2 separate regions of the Homo sapiens genome follow, and region 1 is linked to region 2. Evidence: fine-mapped expression QTL. Tissue or cell type: tibial artery. Region 2 holds a variant in brackets; the other region holds the start of a gene. All regions are shown on one strand. Distances are from middle to middle.

Evidence for each region. PIP is the estimated chance that this variant, and not a neighbour inherited with it, causes the effect. A credible set is the group of variants that fine-mapping cannot tell apart.
Region 1: NT5C1A starts here. The variant in region 2 is the best candidate, but not a certain one, in a credible set for the expression of NT5C1A in tibial artery (GTEx, PIP 0.56).

What each region holds. Positions count from the first base shown.
Region 1 is chr1:39,669,001-39,674,222 of GRCh38, forward strand. NT5C1A (5'-nucleotidase, cytosolic IA) reads right to left here and starts at 3,107. Exons shown (of 6, transcript NM_032526.3): 1 at 2,904-3,107. The coding sequence starts at 3,038. RefSeq lists a silencer at 2,890-3,299.
Region 2 is chr1:39,648,331-39,653,552 of GRCh38, forward strand. NT5C1A (5'-nucleotidase, cytosolic IA) reads right to left here. Exons shown (of 6, transcript NM_032526.3): 6 at 2,899-5,222. Among named protein-coding and RNA genes, the nearest start is that of HEYL, 11 kb to the left of the region's middle. The variant T/C (reference allele first, on the strand shown) is at 3,208.

The sequences.
Region 1 (5,222 bases), 21 kb after region 2:
TAGAGACCCTCCTGGGCCTGGCCGCAGAGGTGGCCATGTGTTGGCAGGGGCATCTAGGAACAGTTCCTCCAGAGAGCAGAAAGAAGCCCTGATCTCAGACTGGGAATTGGGTCAGAGTGACTCAAGGGCTCACTCTGGGAGCTCTGAGCTCCAGGAAACCAGGGTGCTGGCAGCTCTCTCTGCCTTTCAGGGTCAGGCTGATGGCTCCGGCTAGGGGATGGGAATGGAAGAATAACAGAGTGCAGCCCACCCCCACCTGGACTTCCTGAGGAGCTCCCATTTAGGCTAACGTAATTCTGCCTATTGGGTCCAAGATAGAAACATAGGCAAAAAGCTGTTATTCCCAGTAGGACTTAGAGAGGGAAGGGCTGCTGAAAGAGAGAGGGACAGGAGAGTTTTGGATTGAAGAAGTGTTCTGACCCCATGAGGTGAGGGCCTCCAACAGGCCTTCAGGCGTTAAATATTTTACTCAGGCCCCTGGGAATGAGAATTAGCCCAGGCCAGGCCATGATGGGGCCCATGAGGCCTAGAGCCCCCAAAATAGCCTGTGGGAAGAGGGGCTTCTGCAGGAAGGAATAGGAGCTGGGAAGCCTCCAGGCTTCTTGCCTCCCAGAGAACCATGAGAGTCAGGGGCTGATCCAGGGGTCATGACTGACAACTGGGCCTGAGCTCTCCGGTTCCTTGGTGCCTGGGGAGGAAATGGATTTTGAGCACTGATGCTTTCACTGCCCCAGTCCCCAGTCTCCATCCCTTCTTCTGCATCACTCAGGCCACAGCATTGACATTCATCCAGCTTCCTCTTCAGAGAGGCACCAGCCTTCTCACTGGTGGGTTTGCTGCCGGACTCACCCTTTCCAATCCATCCCAGAGTGATCTTTCTAAAATAAAAATGGGACCCAGTTAATCCCCTGATGAAAAATCCTGTAATAGCTCCATAATGGTATTCATATGTTTGTTTAAATGTAGGTTGACCTTTTATTTAAATGAATTCAAATAAACTTTGAATTCAATATGTAAGCCAGATATTACCATATATCTCATACCATATGGTACCAGATATAACATATATAATTGGTGTTTATTTATTTTACAGATTCAAATGCATTACATTTATTTATTTATTTATTATAAAGTCAACCAATGAAAACAACACAGTTGTTTGCATGACAACAAATTTGAAACTAGCGGCTAGAATGCCAGTGCAGACTTAAGCTTCAGCATCCGGCCAAGTTGTTGCTGTGTTTGTATTTGTACAGTATTGAGAAAGTCCTGATTCAGACCAATAAGTGGTTGGAAATGCTAAAAGGTTTTTTGTTTTGGTTTGTTTTAAACTAAAGGCCTTACAATCTCAAGACGCTCTTTGATGGAACAGATCACAGGGGAAGCCTTATTCTGAGCTTTGCTTTAAAAAAATCTGCAGCACAAGCTAGTGGCCTTCAAGCTGCTAAAATGTCCACCTAATACATTAGAGTGAGTTGGGTTTTATTACACATTTTTAATTGTTTAAAACATAGTCCGAAGAAGAAAGAAAATAAATTGGATTCACATGTGTGCAGACTCCCTGAAACATGGGGCTTGGGGAAGCTAGTTTGGAAATCCCTGACCCCCTTGAGTAAGGTCCAGACTCCTTAACATGATCCCCAAGGCCCTCTGTGGGCTCTTCCACATCCCTCCAGCTCTTCTTCCAACAATCCTGCATTCTTCATTCAGTACTTATTCAGGAACACAGTCCTGAGCTTCAGAGACATCTGCATGACTTTTGCCTGTCCTGTTTCCCTCTCCCTGGGAAACTCCACCTACTCAGGCTTTAAGATCAGGATACGTGCCACTTCTACAAAGCTTTCCCCAGTGTGATGTCACTACTCTACTCCCCCCCCAACTCCCCTAGGCTCTCATCTCTGGAGCCTCCATCATTGTGCAGTGAGCTCCTGAGGCAGGGACTCAGGTTATTTAATTCTTCAATCCCCACTCTTGAGCAGAGCTTGGAGGTGCTAATTGAATGATTGCTGATAGGGTGGACCTGTTGGGGAAGGGTTCTTGGAGGGAAGCAGCAAATTGCTTTAAGATCAAGCTGGAGCTCTTTGGAGGACCGCTGTGGGCCAACCTCTATTCTCGGTTTTCTCCTCAAGCTCTGAGATCTGGGAAGTTGGAGACAGCAAGGTCCAGGGGCAGACCAGGGCATCATCAACTTGTTTGATGGCAGAGAGGAGAGAGCTCCTCTGTGAGGTCCCAGACGGTTGACACCACCACAGGGTCGTGGGGATGTTAATGCCCACTGCAAGGGGAGCAGAACCCGAGCTGGGGGGCAGAGTCCAGCGCTGGGAGCCTGCGGCCAGGGGCGCCGATCGCCCCCCAGCGCAGAGTGTGGATCCCAGTGCCTGGAGAGAGCAGCTCCCTTTCCTTAGGACGCGGGGAGCGCACTGCCCCCAGCCCAGGGCCCAGGACCCAGAGCCAGACCCCAAACGCAGAGTCTCAGGTCCGGAGCCCGATGCCCAGATGGCGGAGACCGGAGCGCACAGCCAGGAACCGGGTTCCCAAAGTCTGGTTACCCGCGCCTGGGGCGCTTCTGGAAGCGCTGCGGACCAGCTTCGCCAACAAGTGCAATCCGCGCTCCCCGGCGGCCCGAGTGGGGAGGGGCTGGGGCTGCGGGCCTCTAGCTGGGCCCTGATGACAGCATGGGGGAGGGGGAGCCTGGCGTGGAACCCGAGTCCCGGTAAAAAAATACACCAGAGCAGAGCTCCCAAAATAAACCCGAGCCCGCGCCAGCTGCAGGGCGCATTCTGGGGCTGAGGAGCTGCGTCCCCTCCCAGAGGGGCGCCACGGGTCCCTTCCCAAGAGACTTATGACCCCTCCTCCGGGGTAACCCTTCCCCCGTCCCCCGCATACCCGTGCATTGCTTTTACCGATTTGGGTTTCTTCTTGGGCGCGAGGTTGTCGTAGAAAATCTTGGCTTCCTCCCAGACCGGGGCCGCAGCGGTCTCCGCTCCTGGCCCGGGCTCGCGGGGCTCCTGGGGCTCCCGGGGCTGCCCAGGTTCCATGCTCCGGCTCTGACCCGGCCCGGCCAGAGCAGGCGGCGGCGTAGACGCGGAGGTGGCTGGGGCTGGGCTGCAGGAGGGAGGCGAGTCCCGGCGAGGGAAGGGGGCGGGCAGCGGCGAGGAGGCTGTGCGTGTGAGCTGGGCTCCCCGCCCGCCGGGCGGGGGGAGGTCACACTGGCCCTCTCGGTCGCCCGTGTGTCGCTGCCGCTGCTGCTGCTACTGCTGTACGGTATGAGGGATAGCTGGGCTCTCCTTCCCCGACCGACCCACGCCAGCAGCCGGTTGGGTGGTGAGGGGGGCTCTCTGGCTCTCTGGGTTTGTGGGCTGCAGCGGATTGGGGATTGCGAAAATGATGTTCTTCGCAGGCGCTGCAGGGCGCGGAGACAGGAGAGGCCTGACAACTTTTTTTTTCCCCCAGGATAGTGATCCCCAAAGGACAAAATGAAAAGCTAGCCGCTCCCCTCCCAAAAGCTAGCTGCCCATCTTTCCTTTAGGAGCTAGGACCCTGGGATCCTGACGATGTCCCCTTCCCTCCGAGGCCAGTCCATCCGGCAGACGGGCAGGAGGTGATGCATGGATGGCTCCTCTCACTAGCAGAAGCCTGCTCCCAGCGGGAGCTCAGTGAAGGGCCCAACCCGGCAGCTCCTCCACACCACCTAGGAGGGGCCCTTGAAGTCCATGTTGAGACCAGGCTCGGGTGGTCTCAGGTCGAGACCTTGGCCTGGGGTGGGGACCCAGGCCAGAGAGACTCCCAGGGACTCTGAACCCGAATTCTTGCTGGCCCTTTGGTGGTCAGCAGAGGGCGCGCATTCCTAGGCCCCCACCTGCCCAGCTTGGGGTGATTTGTTATAGGCCATGAAGGGGCTGGATAGAGGGAGGGCAGAAGAGGGGCCTCGGAACTACCATCCTGGAATTCCAGGGTGTTGTCCCTCTTGATGCAGAGCTCTGTACTAGTCTCAGGGTGCAGACACAAATGTCACCCATCCCAAGGTACAGGCCAGGAAGCAGACAGCCTCTCTCAGAGGTGTGCATGGGTGGGTGGGAGAAGCAGGAGAAAACACTGGCTTAGCTAGGAGGGCCTCTGACTGGGGAGGTGAGGGGGCTACAGAATGGAGTGATCCCCTCAGCCTCCACCAGGTCCTGGGAGGAATAAACCAACCCTTGTGTGGGAGGAAGGGAAAAATCATAATAAAATGTTAGGATTGGGGGAAGTGTGTTTAGACTTACTTCTAGAAGATTGTTTCCAGAGATGGCCCAAAAACCTCTTCCATCCTGCCTGTCCTTTGGAAATGTGACTTTGACATTCCTCCCATTCAGAGGTGGAGTCCAGTCTGAGCTGGCCCTGTGACTTGCTTTGACCAATTGAATGGAGTAGAAGTGGTGCTCTGTGGTTTCCAAGCTTACGTCTTAAGAGGCCTTGCAGATTCCATTTTTGCCCTCTTGGGAGCCAGCTACTATGTAAATAAGTCTGGACTATCCTGCTGGAAAGGCCACGTAGTGAGACAGATAGGACCTGGAGGATAAGAAGCTAGCGACAGCCCAGGTGACTATAGGCACAATTGACAGACATGTGAATGAGGCCATCCTGGCTGTCCCAGCCCCAGCTCAGCTCCCAGTGGAGTGCAGCTATGTGGGTGACGCCAGCCAACACAACCTGAAGCAGTAAAACCTTCCAGCTGAGCCCAGCCAACTCACAGAATCATCAAAAATAATAAATTGTTGTTTCAGGCACCAAGTTTTGGGGTAGCTTGTTACACTGCAATAAATAATTGAAACTCTAGGAATGAGGTCAATTATTCTCAGGTGCCTCATGGAGAAGAATGATGAAGTAACTCAGGAAGAATACATAGAGTGGTTACTTGGATGGAGGTGGGCACTTCACACAAAAGTGAGCCACCCCCATGCTGTCCAGCGGCCTTTAATCTGTGTGATTGGCTTGAAAAGATGACCTGGGCCAAGCAGATTTGTCTTTCTCAGGAATTTGGAATTGGGAAATGGGCTGGGCAGTCAACCATTGGAATAGAAGCTGAGGATGCTGTGAAATACAGTTGGCTCCGAAGAGACCTGGGTGAGCCTCAGCAGACTGCAGTTATATGCAAAGTAAAGCTCGGCGCAGGTGGAGACTCTCTGAGCAGAATGAGATGAGCAGCAGATCAAGATGGGAAAGGATGTGCAGAGAGCAGCACA
Region 2 (5,222 bases):
ATGCAGAACATTTACTAGATAAATTGCTTATAAGGGTAAAAGAGAGGGAGCAGGAGGAAGCAGAAAGAGCCTTTTGACCATGATGCAGGTCTGACATCTGTGAAGGAGAGTGAGAAGGGAGATGGCTTGGTTAGGAAGAGCCTTGGACTGCAATGCAGCTCTGAGAAAGTCCTCATTGGGCCCAGAGTAAAGATGGGGTCCCACGTAGGACAGAAATAGCCTGGTGTTAGCTTCCCCACCATGCCCAGTCACCACTGGGAGCAGGCTAGGAAAAGCATGCTATCTGCCCCATGAAAGCTGCAGCAGACCCAGAGGGGCAGCTGCTGCAGGCTGTTGGGTAATCATGCTCCTTGCAGCAGGTTCTCTCGAAGGAGATGTGAGTTATGCACTCTCCTGGCAGCCACAGAGGATACATGTTTTGCAAGGTCACCCAGCAAGCAAGTAACAAGTTCATATCCTTGGGCTGTGGCTGTATTATTCTCACACTGGGGTGAGCTTTATACCACTTGGAGCTTCATAGGGCTTCTAAGGGGAACTTTGCCAGAGGAAGGAAAGAATGAAGATTCATGGGTGGGTAGGTGCAGCAAACCACCATGGCACTCCTTTACCTATGTAACAAACCTAGGCCAGGCGCGGTGGCTCACGCCTGCAATCCCAACACTTTGGGAGACCGAGACGGTTGGATCACCTGAGGTCAGGAGTTCAAGATCAGCCTGACCAACATAGTGAAACCCTGTCTCTACTAAAAATACAAAATTAGCTGGGTGTGGTGGTGCATGCCTGTAATCCCAGCTACTTGGGAGGCTGAGGCAAGAGAATCACTTGAACCCAGGAGGCAGAGGTTGCAGCGAGCCGAGATTGCGACACTGCACTCCAGCCTGGGTGGCAGAGCGAGACTCCATCTCAAAAAAACAAAACAAAACAAAACAAAACAACAAAAAAAAACCCAAAAACCCTGCCTGTTCTGCACGTGTATCCCAGAACTTAAAATTAAATTAAATTAAATTAAATTTTAAAAAAAGAATGAAGATTCAAATTGCTATGGTCTGAATATACCTCTCCAAAATTAATATGCTGAAACCTTATCACCAATGTGATGATATTAGGAGGTCGGGCCTTTGGGAGATTATGAGATCTTGAGGGTGGAAGCATATGCCACCATGCCCAGCTAATTTTTGTATTTTTAGTAGAGACGGGGTTTCTACTAAACATGTTGGCCAGGATGGTCTCAATCTCCTGACCTCGTGATTCACCCGCCTCAGCCTCCCAAAGTGCTGGGATTACAGGTGTGAGCCACCGCGCCCGGCCAAAAATAATGTTTCTTTAAGTGACCTATTGGAAAATAAAACTGGCTACTAGTAAGCACAAGAAAAAAAAACAGAACACATAGGCCTTAGGTCATGGATGAGCTTTGCAAGTTGAAAAGGGAGTGCACACGGGAGGAGAAAGAATTATGTCTGTGATTTCTTTATCTGGTGGTTACTCCTTTTTTTTTTTTTGGTTCCAGCTCCAAGCCACAGTCACATCTGTATCACATCATGGGGTTTTTATTCCCAAATCCAGTCCAAGACCATGTCAGAAAGTAGAGGATTCATTTATGGCACCAGAGGCTGGGGCTGATATCCAAGGCCTAGGAAGGAGGGGGTGTTAGGATGCCACCCTTCCCCCACCCCTGCCTTTCCCTCACCTTGGACATGGGCCACTGGTCATAAAACAGGACAAACAGCTCTGGGACCACTGGCCTTATGGACATTATAAAAATTTTACCATGAGACTAAGACATCTCAGAACACAGTTTCGATGATGTCCCCAAGTAGGTGACTCCAAGGCCCCTGAAGGAATGTTGGACAGGAGGTGTGGGAAGGAAGTAGATGAAGAATCATATTTCTCTCCATTCCTGGTGACTGGGTGGGGACAGGTGGGAAAGCAAGGGGACTTCAGGTTGGAGAATCCAGGAGACACATTCAAGTCTAGTCTTGCCACAGGGCAGAAGAACGGTTAACATAACCTTGGGGGCCCCTGGTATACCAGACTGATGGAGGTATAATAATATGTGGTAGCCAACCTCCAAGATGGCCCCTAATCATCTCCACTTCCTGATATTCACCTCCTTGCGTAGTCCCCTCTCACCTTGTATCAGGGTTTGTCTGTGTGACCAATGGAATATGCTAGAGGTGATGACATGTCACTTCCAAGGCTAGGTCATAAAAGATGGTGTGGCTTTTGCCTTGCTCTCTTGGATTACTCACTCTCAGGGAAGCCAACAGCCATGTCATGAGGACACTCAGGTAACATTGTGGTGAGGAACTCTGGTCACCTGCCAACAGCCATGTGAGTGAGCCATCTTGGAGGCAGCTCCTCCAGCCCTAGGCAAGCCTTCCATTGACTGCAGCTCCACCTGGCAGCTTGACTACAACCTCATGAGAGGCTCTGAGTAAGAACCACCCAGAAAAGCCACTCTTGGATTCCTGCTCTGCAGACACTTTGAGGTGCAGGAAGACCCTGGGGTGTAGGAAGACCCTGGGGTGCAGGAAGAAGAATGATGTGAGGGCTGGAGTCTGAGTTATCCCCTTCTTCCTTCATCTCACATCCTTTCTCATCTTCTCTTCCTCCCTCTCCATCCCCACCCTTGGTAGTTCCAGATGGGAACACCGAGTCCATGTGAGGAGCCCTGTTGGGGGAAGCTTGCCTTCTGATGCTCTCAGGCTGCTGTCCATTGCGGAATCTCCCCTCAGGGTGGTCTTCATGTGCTGGGACAGATTCTACAGAAAGATCCCAGCACTAGTGGATGAATCGGGTCCCAGGCCTCTTCATTACCTACGTCACCATTAGCATTTCATGAGGGGCCATATGCCAGTTTGTGAATACAATTGTGGGGAAAAAACAAGACAACGTAAGTTAATTAAAACCCTCTCCATTTATTTGAATGGCTTTTAAGAAGCAGAAGCACATGTGGTAAAATTAAGGTATAGGACATGCATGAGAAGTGACAGGGACCCACACTGGCAAGCACTCAGCACCCTTTATCATGTGACCAGGTAAATGTTACAAAGAGCCAGACAGGTCTGGATCGATGGGGTGTGCTACTAGTAGGCCAAAGAGGGCAAAGCTGGGAGAAGTACAAGCAGTCTTATTCCCAGACAAGGGAAGTCACAAAGACGAAGAAACACATGCTCTAACCATTTACGGAGGCACTTAGGTTTATCA[T/C]AACAAGCAACCCAGAGAGGTTGGGTGATGAGGAAGACTGAGGCAGCAAATGCTATCAAAGCAAAGGGCTTCTGACAGGTAGATACAAGCACATTATGCACACAGGTTTCATTTTTCATCGTATTCTATATCGGAGGTTATTGAGATGCTCTTAAGTAGAAACCAGAAGTTAAGTATATGTGCGCTATTACATTAATAAAGAAGTTCGTAGGCCGAGTGTGGTGGCTCACGCCTGTAATCCCAGCACTTTGGGAGGCAGAGGCTGGTGGATCACCTGAGGTCAGGAGTTCGAGACCAGCCTGGCCAATATGGTGAAACCCCATCTCTACTAAAAATACAAAAAATTAGCTGGGCATGGTGGCGGGCACCTGTAATCCCAGCTACTCAGGAAGCTGAGGCAGGAGAATTGCTTGACCCCAGGAGGCGGAGGTTGCAGTGAGCCAAGATTGTGCCACTGCACTCCAGCCTGAGTGACAGAGCAAGACTCCGTCTCAAAAAAAAAAAAAAAAAAAAAAAAAAAAAAAAAAAAAGAAGTTTGTACATACGCAGTTTTGAACACACAAAGGCTGAGCTAGGTCATCTCTGAGGTCTCTTAAATATCCATCACTGAGAATCTGAGTGTAATATCCTCAGACTCTCAGTGACTTGGGTCTTAAAAACCCAAGTCTCTGGGCCTGGGCCAGCGGATGCAAACTGGAGATTCAAGGGCCGGATCTCGCCTACAGAATATGTTTTATTTGGCCCAGATGGTGTTTTCTAAATTCAAAATAGTTGCCAACATTTAAAAGTCCAGATTCCCAGCTTCTCTTCAAAAATGGGGCGGACTATCCGGCAACCTCAGGCCACATTCCCATGTGGCAGCAACCATGGCAGACCACAGTGTTCTCCATTCTCAGTGAAGAACTGGCTTAATCCTCTCCACTCATTTATGTTTCCTGCCTCGCCCCTGTAGGCATTGGGGTTTGTGACCCTGGCCCAGGCATCCAGTCTAGGGTGACCTCAGTGATTTTCTTGGTGGCTTCTTGGTGGCAGTTAGCTACAAGACTAGCCTTGAGGCCTTTACCCTAATTCCGTGGCAGATGGCCATGAAGGCATATATTCACCCACAGGCCAGGAGTGTGGGAGTCAGTGACCCCAGTCTTCACAGCTTTGGTTTGCCTTACAGAGGCTTTCACTTTGCAAAGATGAGTAACTGAAAAGTTCCCAGCCACATTTCACTTTTATAAATGGAATTCCAAAGGCCTCTAGGGGATGGCCCATCAGGGAGATACTTCCCAATTAAGGTCAATGGTAAGTCACTTCTGGGCCACATTAGAACACTCAAGCAGAGGCAGGAATCTTTGCCTAGGTTGGGCAGGGCTGGTAGTGGGGAGGGAAGGCAACTTTCGTAGCCATGGCCATGAGATGACCAGGGCATCTGTATACAGTTGGCAGGTTGTGCAGGTGTCTAATAGGTACTACCCATGTCACAATACCAATGGCGCCCTCTAGATTTTTGCAGTGCACAATCTGCCCAACTGGACACGTTGGCCTTGGCACTGTTAGGGGGAGGGAAGAAACAAATGGAGATGATGAGGCAGGTATAGTCAAAAGGATTGCCCTTACACAGATTCTACCACTTCCTTCCCAAGGCTCAGGAGTAGGGGTAGGAGGCAGAGGGTTAGGAGCCAAGACTTTCTTGGCCAGAGGTTGGGGGCTGGTCTCGGTGGCCCCCAAGCTGCACATACGCAAATGCCCATGTTATGATGGAAATGGGTACAACTATCCTAGGGCTGGCCATCAGTATGTGGGTCCCAGGACACTCAGTTAACAGAGATAACCATCTGTACACATAGTGAGTACACACACACACACAGAGTCATTGGCTGAGATATCTGGCCCATTACACACACCCACATAAATACACGTACGTGTACGATTTTTATCCTGTTGCACAAACTTAATATGTGTGCATCCATACACACAATCACAGTAATTGCCGGCAAGAGCAATCGGCTCGTCACTCGGGCATATTT